Linked DNA regions of Homo sapiens. The protein of the gene in region 2 interacts with the protein of the main gene of each other region in a biochemical or structural test. Each region holds a gene or a part of one and is shown on either strand. Other genes may lie near its edges. The genes, in order: PRMT7 and CTCFL.

Region 1 (3,356 bases), on a different chromosome or scaffold from region 2:
CCTGCAGCCCCTGTGTGCCGAGGGCACCGTGGAGCTCAGAAGGTGGGTGCAGAGAGGGCTGGGGGGCAGGGAGGGGCTGCTGCTTGCCCTTGGAGTTCTCACCCCCGTGGTGAGCACAGCTGGCCTGGGAGACGCTGACACGTGGAGGGGGTATTCGTCCTCCCCACAACCTTGCCCTTCCCTGTCAGAGTGGCCCTGCGCGTGTGGTGGTTCCCACGGTCCTGTGTGTGCCACTGGTGGAGGAGCCAGGAAGGGCTCTGCTCCCCCTCTACAGCTGAGGCTCCCTTGTTGGATCACAGCTCAGGAAGATGGGAGCTTACTTCCTGTGGTCACCGATGCACCATTTTCCTGAACCCTCCTGGGAGCTGAAGCAGGTCAGGGTCAGCAAGTGCTGCTTGCGTCCAGGGACGGGCAGCCCTGTCCTGCTCCGGCCCTCACCCCACCCTCGCCCGAGGAGTGACTTCTCCTGGAAGCACCTCCCAACTCGGGGCAGGCAGCCAGGCAGGGCGGGCGCCATCACCTGAGCTCCCAGGGTTGCTGTCTGGGGCATCAGAGGGGCCTTCCGGCCTTCAGTGCCAGGCTGTGCCTCAAGCTCCCCCAGACCCTGCAGCCACACCGGCCCTGCCCCATGTGTGGCCCGGCTGCAGGGCTCGGGTTGGCTCAGGTGGGGGCTTGGCTGCGGCTCTTCTGGCTGGGGTTTTTCTGAGGAACGTTTATGTAACTGCAGCACTAGGAACTCCCGGCAGGGCAGGAAGGAAGTGGGGAAGACCACAGGTTTCTGGAAAGCCGCAGGAGCTGCAGCTGTTCCCCCGCTGCCTCTTGTGTGACTACTTCTGCTGGGCCCCCCTCTCCTTGACAGGCCCGGGCAGAGCCACGCAGCGGTGCTATGGATGGAGTACCACCTGACCCCGGAGTGCACGCTCAGCACTGGCCTCCTGGAGCCTGCAGACCCCGAGGTAGTGCCTGCGCACCGGGCCCAGTGTGCGTGCAGACCCTGAGAGCAGGCGCCGCCTGGGGAGGCCTCCCTGCCCCCATGCTCTGGGTGTTTCTGTCACAAGTTCTTCGGGCCAGATGATGACCCCTCAGTGGTCCTGGGCCATCTGGCCCCTGAGCAGCTTCTCTCTGCTGCGAGCTGCCTGGGCTGGAGGCTGGCTAGGAAGGAGGCTCAGGTGCCAGGGAGCCCTCACCATCTTCCTGCTCTTCTTCCTACAGGGGGGCTGCTGCTGGAACCCCCACTGCAAGCAGGCCGTCTACTTCTTCAGCCCTGCCCCAGATCCCAGAGCACTGCTGGGTGGCCCACGGACTGTCAGCTATGCAGTGGAGTTTCACCCCGACACAGGCGACATCATCATGGAGTTCAGGCATGCAGATACCCCAGACTGACCACTCTTGAGCAATAAAGTGGCCTGAGGGCTGGGGTTCTGAGTGGCTCATGGCTTTCTAGCGGGGAAGGCTGAAGGCCCTCCTCTCCTCTCTGGGAGCTGCTCGGCCTCAGGGATGGGAAAGACTGCGCCGTGTTGCATCTTGTTGCATCTTTGCACTGCTGGCCTCTGGCTCCAGCTGTGGCAGGAAGCATGAGAGGGTGACTGAATTTGGAGCCCTGGAGGGGCTGGGAAGACCCCCCTGCTTGTGCTTCTGAGGTGCTGAGAATGCTCCAACACAGAGACATCTCTCCCCAGCTGGGAAGGGAGTGGAAGCACAGGGAGCTTGTGGGGCTGGCCGGTGGGGTTGTCCACGCCGCCCTTGGCGAGCAGTCCCCGTGGCGGGAGCCTGTCCTGTCTGTCTCACTCTCGAGGATCTCCGGGTCCCTGCTCTTCTGGCTTCTGCTAGGAGGGTGGAGATGCTGAGTTGTGGCTGGGTCTCTGGGGCTTGAAGACCCTGGCTGGGCCCGGGCTGAGAGGCCTGGGTTCTGGCCCTTTCACCTGACAGGTAACTTCAAGCCACATCCATAGGTGTCTGGCCTCAGTGCTGCACCAGCTGGTGGCCTGCCAGGACCTGAGACTGGACACAAGGCAGCTGTCCCAGAGCAGTTCCTGAGATGCAGGCCCAGGAAAGTGGCTGTCAGGGGAGCTGGGAGGCAGCCCTGTTCCCTGCACCTCCCTCAGATTGGAAAGCCCCTCCTGCAGGTGGGGTATGGCAGGGAGCAGCCCCTGCCCAGCGCCGCTTCACCAGGAAGGTCAGTAGGTGCCGTGGCCTTGCTTCTCTCACACACTAACCCCCCTTTGGTTATGTCCCAGCTCTCAGAGGTAACAGCAGACACCACGTGAGAGAACCCAGTGGCCTCTGGCTCGCAGCTTAGAAGGTGAGGCTTGTGCCAGGCCAGCCGAGCCGCCTGTATGAGCAGAGTTCCGGTGTCCTCGGATTCAGGGCAGACTTGGGCAGTGCCTGTCCTGCAGTTGGGGGCAGGAACTCCCTCCCCTGCCCCCAGGCGTGCCCCTGAGGCCTGGCCCCAGCTTGTCGCTGAAATAAGTGGAGAACACCAGCCTTGAGCCTCACAGTTTTATTTTCTCCTCGTTATCCATCCTTCCTTTCAGCACCAGTAAGGAAAAAGAACACCTCTCTTCGCAAAATATTTTATCAGGTGTAAAGACTTGTTTTTCTTCTAGGGAAGAACCGTCTGGATATATATTTGATAATGTTTTTACCAAAACCATAGGTGTGCTTACCATAGAAAACCCCTAATGTCCCATGAAGATACAATACAGAAAAAAATACAGAAATTAAAAAAGTTTTTATAACAGTATTTCTAAATCTCAGCAAGTTAAAAAGCAATAGTTAAAAAGCATCAAGATTAATATACTTAAAACTTAAGGTGGTTTTGGACAAATGAAAATGAACATTTCCTTCCTCAGTGGCCCCCGCGCCTTGTGGCTTCCTTTGAGACTGGGCCTAGGGCAGGAACAGAGTCTTGGTATGGGCCTCGGGTGACCCGTGTGCCCACCCCTGCTAGGCCTTAGATGCCACAGAATCTGAGATCCAGCAATGGTTCACTTTAAAAAATCAGTGGAAGGGCCTGGCCTGCACACAAGGCCCGGGAGTCCATAGGCAGCCACAATGAGACACGTGGGTGGGGGGGTCCCGGTCTTGGTGCTGAGGGAGGTGTGCGGGGGCCTGGGGGCCGCACATCCTTACTCTGGACCCCAGGACCTGACTAGGCAGAGGCGACCTTGTGATGACAGAAAATGACTTGCCTAAGGCCGCCTGTGAGGTGGGAGGGGAGGAGCATGCAGCCCTGACTCCCACGCCTGCTGCCCCGGGAGGGGGTGCCTGGGTGGGGAAGCTATGTTGGGGTCTGGTGTGGGGGCCCTGCCCGGGCCTCAACTGCTCTCCCTGTGCAGGCAGTCGGCAGGCGGCTC
Region 2 (7,290 bases):
ATCAGCGGGGAAGTCACGTTTCTCCAGGGACCCTTTAGGATCTGACTTAAACTCAGAGCCGAGGTGGCCAGTAGCCCGGCCTTGGGTTTCTACAATGTGCGCTGATGAACTGTGGGTCAAATTTCACCGGTCTGTCTTCTCCAGTAAAGGACTGTGCTTACTATTCACTCGTTTATTCAACAAGTGGTGACTTAACGAGCAATGCTGAGGCCAGGCCTAGTGCCAGGAGCTGGGGACGGACCCGATGGGCCAGGCCCGCCTTGGAGGAGCCTGCGGTGCCCTGCATGTGGGAATCCGGCACTTATTAAAGAACCAAATAAGCGTGAAGTGTGCAGGAGGGGCAGCGCAGGACCAGGTGGGTGGTCGCGCGAAGTGCTTTTATTTTTCTGAAGATACGGAGCATGTTTAAGGCTGATAGGAAAGAGCAGGCCTGCAGGGGTGAGTTGGCTGAGGAGGGTGGGTGGGGGACATAAAGCTGCTCATCTGGGGGGTGGGTTCCAGACTCAGAGTCAGAAGGGGCCTTAGATGGGAGGGGTGGCTCCTCCAGCCCCTTCCTCCATTAAAAAATGTGAAAAATGATATTTTACAACATCATTGGTATAAAGGAATCCAAATGGAATGCAGGCTGCATTCATTGCTTGATACCCATCAGTGAGACACTGGTTTTTCTTCTGATCTGCCCCTATGAGCACTGTGGACAGCCCTGTGCCCTGCGGGGCCGGATGGAGAAGCCCCAGGAGCTGGCGGAGGATGGCGGGAACTCCAGCTGGGAGTGGGATGACACAGGAATGCCGGGGCAGCGGGCAGCAGAGCCCATCTGCTGGTGCAGAGTCAGTGAGGCCTCCACCCAGAGGGAGGGAGGCAGGGGCTGGGAGTTTGGGATGAAGGTGCTCACTGGAAATCAGTGGAAAAGTTATTGGTGCTGAGGTTCAGAATGAGGGCTCTGGGCACCTGGGCAGGCTCGTCCCCACCCTGTGATGGAGCTCTCTCCCTGTCAGATGGATGACAGTGCCCCCTGCAGAGGCCTGTGGTCATGATAAGAAGGGACTTGCATGAGCTCAGTGGTAATTGCCGATGCCTGGAGGAGAAAGGAGGGTGCTCCGCGCATGGGCAGTGTGCACAATTCTGGAGAGTTCCAACTGAGCTGAGTGATGGGGCACTGCCTGGGACCCCTCAGTCTCACCAGTTCCCTGCCAGGCAGGGCCTGGCTGTGTGACGCAGGCATGGGAAAGGCAGGCCGGGGGCACACCCAGGCTTAGGGCTTTGCCAGATGGTGAGACGCAGAGAAAGAGTGGGGGAGTGCTGCCTGTGGACAGAGCGACTGGAACCAGGGACCCAGAACCGACTCCACACAGAGGGAGTGGGAAGGACTGCAGGATGCCCGCTTCTACCCGAGTTTCAGATACATGATGAACATTTTTTTTAGTATAAGTATATCCCAAATAGTGCATGGGACACATTTAAACAATGATTCACTGTGTATCTGAAATTCAGATTGAGCTGGGCATCCTCTATCTGATCTGGTAACTCTTGAGGAAAGGCAGGTGGAGGGCGACCGTCATCTGTGGGAACATTCGCAATGCAGGGACTGAGTCTGGAATGAGAACGTGGGGTATTTGCTTGTGCCGTAAAAGTCTGGACAGTTTCCAGTCATCTACGGTTCTAAGGTTCTCAGAGGAAAGGAATGGAGAAGGTGAACAGTGCAGGTGTTCACCTGTGCAGGTGTCAGGTTGGCCCCTCTTACAGCAGAGCCATTCACAGGACACACAGGACAGGGCCCAGCTTCAGCCAACCTGGGAACTCACTTCAGCTCCCAGAGGCCAGAGGACGAAGACTGTGATGGCTGTGGGGGCTGAATGGTGACCCCTAAAGGGATATGTCCATATCCTAAGCCCCATAGCTGACCTCCTTTTTTCAAAAGAAGTTCTAAATCCTAAATGATAAATGTCTTTGTAAGAGGCAGAAGAGAAGGCCCACACACAGAAGAGAGGAGAGAGCTAGGAAAAGACAGAGGCAGAGACTGGAGGATGTGGCCACAAACTGAGGAATGGTGGAGCCACCAGAGTTGCAAGAGGCTAGGAGGGACCCTCCCCTAGGTCCCCCGAGGGAGGGCGGCCCTGCCCACACCTGGATTGAGGATTTCTGGCCTCTAGAGCTATTTGAAAATCAATTTCTGTTGTCCCAAGCCACTCAGCTTGTGGTCATCTATTGCAACAGCCCAGGACAGTCCCTGTAGCTGCAGGCGACAGTCCAATGCGATGGAAGAGGGCTCCTCGGGGTGGGGGCCACACATGGACCTGCGTGGGGCTCTCACACTGACTTTCTCACGCTATGCTCACTGCCATTCTGAGAGATCTGGCACAAGCCACCTTGCAGGACCGACTGGTGGACAAATAGGGGCTCTGGACACATCCCCTGGACAGTAACACTCGGCACCCAGGATAGTCACAACCAGAAAATCACTGAGGCGGTAAAAACAAATCTGCGTAAAATCAGTACCGTCTCCGTTCGCGGCTTCCTTCCATCCCTTCGCAGCTTCCTTCTGACCCTTTGTGGCTTCCTTCAGGATGGTCTGCTTCCTCTTTCTTGTTCTTCTTCCCTTTCCTGAAGCAGCCGACTTTGCTTCCCCTGATCCACACTTCTCCGAATGTCTGTGCAGGTTAATCTGTCGGAGAATTGACACAGAACACACAAGGCGAGTGAGATGGGGCAGGGACCCCTCTCAGGGGCCTGTGGGGACCCCACGCATGGAAAGAAAGAAAAATCCTGAGTTCTTTCGAGGGCAATTCCACACACCTCGCTAGCCCTAAGAAGTAAATAAGCAACTTGATAAGCAAGAAGGTAATAGGAGGCCAGGCACTGTGACTCACGTATGTAATCCCAGTACTTTAGGAGGCCCAGGAGGGAGGCTGAGGTGGGAGGATCGCTTTAGCCCCGGAGGTCGAGGCTGCAGTGAGCTGACTGTACCACTGCACTCCAGCCTGAGTGACAGAAAAAAAAAAAAAAGAAAGAAAAGAAAAGGTGATAGAAACCTAAAACAATAGCCAAGGAAGCTACACTCAGGATGTTTGGGGCACTCGCCCAGGCTGGAGTGCAGTGGCGCCATCTCGGCTCACTGCAAGCTCCGCCTCCTGGGTTCACGTCATTCTCCTGCCTCAGCCTCCCAAGTAGCTGGGACTACAGGCACCCGTCACCACGCCCGGCTGATTTTTTATATTTTTAGTAGAGACGGGGTTTCACCGTGTTAGCCAGGATGGTCTCGATCTCCTGATATTGTGATCTGCCCACCTTGGCCTCCCAGAGTGCTGGGATTACAGGCATGAGCCACTGCACCCGCCCCCCGTCTCCTTTTTTTTTTTTGAGATGGGAGTCTCGCTCTGTCACCCAGGCTGGAGTGCAGTGGCATGGTGTCAGCTCACTGCAACCTCTACTTCCCAGGTTCAAGCGATTCTCCTGCCTTAGCCTCCCAAGTAGGTGGGACTACAGGCGAGTGCCACCACACCCAGCTAATTTTTGTTATTTTTAGTAGAGACAGTGTTCCACCATGCTGGCCAGGCTGGACTCAAAACTCCTGACCTCAAGTGATCCACCTGCCTTGGCCTCCCAAAGTGCTGAGATTACAGGCGTGAGCCACCGCACTGGCCAAGATAACATCCTAACATCCGTCCCTGAGTTGTTTTTTAGAAACCTGGCTCTTTACCAAACAGGTCCACCGGCAGGGAGACCTAAGATAAGGAGGACCTGGGGGCTGAAATCTGACCACTGCTAAATTTGTTCTAATTTTGTTCTTAATTTCCTCCTGAGAGGCCTAGAGGAGGTCATGCCTCGTGAACCAGAGCTAATACTCTTTTCTCAAAATTTTAAACAAAACTTCTCTTCCTTAACCAATTGCAAACCAGTCTCTGAATCTACCTACAACCTGTAAGCCCTTGCTGCAAGATATCCTGCCCTTTTAGGGCAAGGTATCCTCCATGCGCTGATTTATAATTTTGTCTGTAGCTTCTGCTTCCTTGGCACCCTGCAAATAAACTCCTGCTGCAAACTGTGGTGTGGATATCTGGTCTTACTGCACCAGGCAAGCAGACCCCAGTTTGGTTCTATAACAAGAGTCGGCTTCCCCAAAGGCACTGAAAAATGCACAGTTAAAGAGATGGCCTTTGGGAAAACTGTGGGTAGCATGCACCTTTGATAATCTTGTGCAAAAATGATGACTTTTTAAAGGTGACCCTTTCTGTTGTGCTTAGCTCTAGCCAAAAGCTAGCTTGCTTTAAGTATTTTTTTTTAATAATAGAAATCAATGAGAAGACAAAATTTATTTATTTATTTATTTATTTTTTGAGACGGAGTCTTGCTCTTTCGTCTAGGCTGGAGTGCAGTGGCACGATCTCTGCTCACTGCAAGCTCCGCCTCCCGGGTTCATGCCATTCTCCTGCCTCAGCCTCCCGAGTAGCTGGGACTACAGGCATGTGCCACCACGCCCGGCTAATTTTTTGTATTTTTCAGTAGAGATGGGGTTTCACCATGTTAGCCAGGATGGTCTCGATCTCCTGACCTCGTGATCCGCCCGCCTCGGCCTCCCAAAATGCTGGGATTACAGGCGTGAGCCACCGCGCCCGGCCTTAAAATTTATTTTTCTAGAATGTTTCTACTCTCTAAAGTGAAGACTGATGTTGAACCAAAAATTCAATACATCAGTCAATTTCATAACCATCAACTACATACCATAAAGATTTTACTTTTCTGTTAGCTACTCTCTTGAAGCTACTGAGCAGAGGTCATGGGTGGCAGTTATGAAACTGTATACAACATTCAGGAATAAAAGCCAAAGACTTCCCCTAGTCAAGCCTACTCGTGACATAGTCTCATCTAACAAACACTCAGGATAATCTTAAGTCAGAAAATTTTCACTTTTTGAAAAGGTCCTAGGCAAAAGTAAAAAAACTGGCAACAGGTGTTGAAATTTGCAAATTATGCGAAACATCCCGCCTGATTCCCATTTTGACTTTCCCACTGTGCTTAACAGGACTGTCTGCGTTTATGATGGAAGAAGGAAGAATTTACACATAATGGGGGTGATGGAACAGGTTGTTTAAACTTCTTCCATTTTATGCTTAGACACTGGGGTTGGCAAACGACAACCAGTGGGTCAAATCTGGCTGCCAACTGTTTGTGAAAGCAAGTTTTACTGGAACACAGCCATGTCTATTCATTTACACACTGCATCCACAGCTGCTTCCATGACACAAGGGCAGACTCAAGAAGTCGTGGCAGAAACTGATTTGCGTTGCCCTGGTGATTAATGACGCTACGCTTACTGGCCACCTGTATGTCTTCTTTGGAGAAAGGTCTATTTAGATACTTTAACTGTTTTGTTTTGTTTTTTTCCTGAGACAGTCTCGCTCTGTTGCCCAGGCTGGACTGTAGTGGCACAGTCTCAGCTCACTGCAACCTCCACCTCCTGGGTTCAAGCAATTCTCCTGCCTCAGCCTCCTGAGCAGCTAGGATTACAGGCATGTGCCACCATGCCCAGCTAATTTTTGTATTTGTAGTAGAGATGGGGTTTCATCATTTTGGCCAGGCTGGTCTTGAACTGCTGACCTTGTGATCCACCTGCCTCTGCCTCCCAAAGTGCTGGGATTACAGGTGTGAACCACCGCGCCTGGCCTAGATACTTTACCTGTTTTTCATTGGGTATCTGTCTATTTACTGAGTTATAAGAGTTCTTTTTATATTTTAGACACAAGTCCAAATATGCTTTCTTGAATCGGAATTTCAAAAATTTTATGTTCTGAGGGACTGCATGAGGCAGACTTGTTCTTTTCTCTACATTTTTATTTCTTGCACCAAAGAGCAGTTTTTTTCTCTTTAGAATTCTACTCGTTAATTTTAACTCTTCACAATTTTTGCATGAGCAATGGTGTTTTGGGAGCACTGCCACAGCTTTTATTTGAAATTTTAAACTAATAGGGTTGACATTCCAGAACTATCCCACTGTGCTACTCAGAAAAACACAACTACACTACTGTTTTAAGAAGAAATATTTTTAAAAAAATAGTCAACTTCAGGAAATTCAACTTTTATAAAACTTTTATAAAGTTAGGCTGAAGCCTACATGGTCCAAGGATCTAGCTAGCCATGTGCAGTGGTTTTTAAATGTCCTGAAATTCTTTGATGCTGTTCCTTTCAAAAGAAACTTCATTCCCCACTCGAGTGTGGGTGGGACTTCATGGTTCATTTCTTGTGACTAGAATGTGCCACTTTTTTTTTTTTTTTGAGACAGAGTCTTGCTCTGTCGCCCAGGCTGGAGGCCAGTGGCACAATCTCAGCTCACTGCAACCTCTGTCTCCTGGGTTCAAGTGATCCTCCCGTCCCAACCACCCAAGTAGCTGGGATTACAAGCGTGCACTACCACGCCTAGCTATTTTCTTTTTTTTTTTTTAAAGTAGAGACAGGGTTTCACCATGTTGGCCAGGCTGGTCTTGAGCTCCTGGCCTCAAGTTATCCACCTGCCTTGGCCTCCCGAAGTACTGGGATTACAGGTGTGAGCCCCCACAGCTGGCTGTTGTGCCGCTTTTAGGACTAGACTGCAAAAGGCACCATGGCTTCCTACTTGCACTCTCTCACTTGCTCTGAGTCAGGAGGACACTCAAGCAGCCCTGCAGAGAGGTCCCTGTAGCAAGGAACTGAGGCCGGTGCCAGCAGTTGTGTGGCGGAGCTGTCCTGGAAGTGGATCCTCTGGCCCCAGTCCAGCCTTCGGATGATGCAGCCCTGGCGGACATCCTGACTGCAGCCTCAGGAGTGGCCCTGAGCCAGGACCACCCAGTTCAGCCACTTCCGAGTTCCCAACCCAGAGAATCTGTCAGGTGATAAATGTTTGTGGTTTTAAGCCACTCCATTTTGAGGTAATCTGTCATACAGAAATAGATAACTAATACAACACCTAAAAGAATAAAACCATAAATGTATTGCTTAGTCCAGTACCAACAGCACTATTCTTTTTTTTTTAATTAAAAAAGTTATTTTAGAGACAGGGTCTCACTCTGTCTTTGAGGCCAGAGTGCAGTGGTGCGATCGTGACTCACTGTAGCCTCCAACTCCTGGGCTCAAGTGGTCCTCCTGTCTCAGCCTCCTGAGCAGCTAGGCCTACAGGGGTGCACCACCACAACCAGCTAATTTTTTTGGAGGGATGGGGGTCTCCCTGTGTTGCCCAGGCTGATCTCAAACTCCTGGCCTCAAGTAATCCTCCCACCTTGGCCTCTCAAGTAGCTGGGATTATAGACACCAATAACA

Evidence for each region.
Region 1: the proteins of CTCFL (region 2) and PRMT7 form a complex in vitro, tested with the Homo sapiens proteins (one study listed by BioGRID).

The regions. Positions count from the first base shown.
Region 1 is NC_000016.10:68,355,842-68,359,197, forward strand, and holds the end of PRMT7 (protein arginine N-methyltransferase 7), read left to right. Parts: coding exon 1-42; intron 43-188; exon of another isoform or gene 189-299; coding exon of another isoform or gene 300-369; exon of another isoform or gene 370-374; intron 375-859; coding exon 860-956; intron 957-1,212; coding exon 1,213-1,383; 3' UTR 1,384-1,929; coding exon of another isoform or gene 1,930-1,933; 3' UTR 1,934-1,952; coding exon of another isoform or gene 1,953-2,037; 3' UTR 2,038-2,743; downstream 2,744-3,356. UniProt on the Homo sapiens protein: Arginine methyltransferase that can both catalyze the formation of omega-N monomethylarginine (MMA) and symmetrical dimethylarginine (sDMA), with a preference for the formation of MMA.
Region 2 is NC_000020.11:57,500,937-57,508,226, forward strand, and holds part of CTCFL (transcriptional repressor CTCFL), read right to left. Parts: intron 6,941-7,290; coding exon of another isoform or gene 6,929-6,940; exon of another isoform or gene 6,908-6,928; coding exon of another isoform or gene 6,860-6,907; exon of another isoform or gene 6,857-6,859; coding exon of another isoform or gene 6,647-6,856; exon of another isoform or gene 6,070-6,646; intron 2,666-6,069; coding exon 2,500-2,665; intron 1-2,499. UniProt on the Homo sapiens protein: Testis-specific DNA binding protein responsible for insulator function, nuclear architecture and transcriptional control, which probably acts by recruiting epigenetic chromatin modifiers.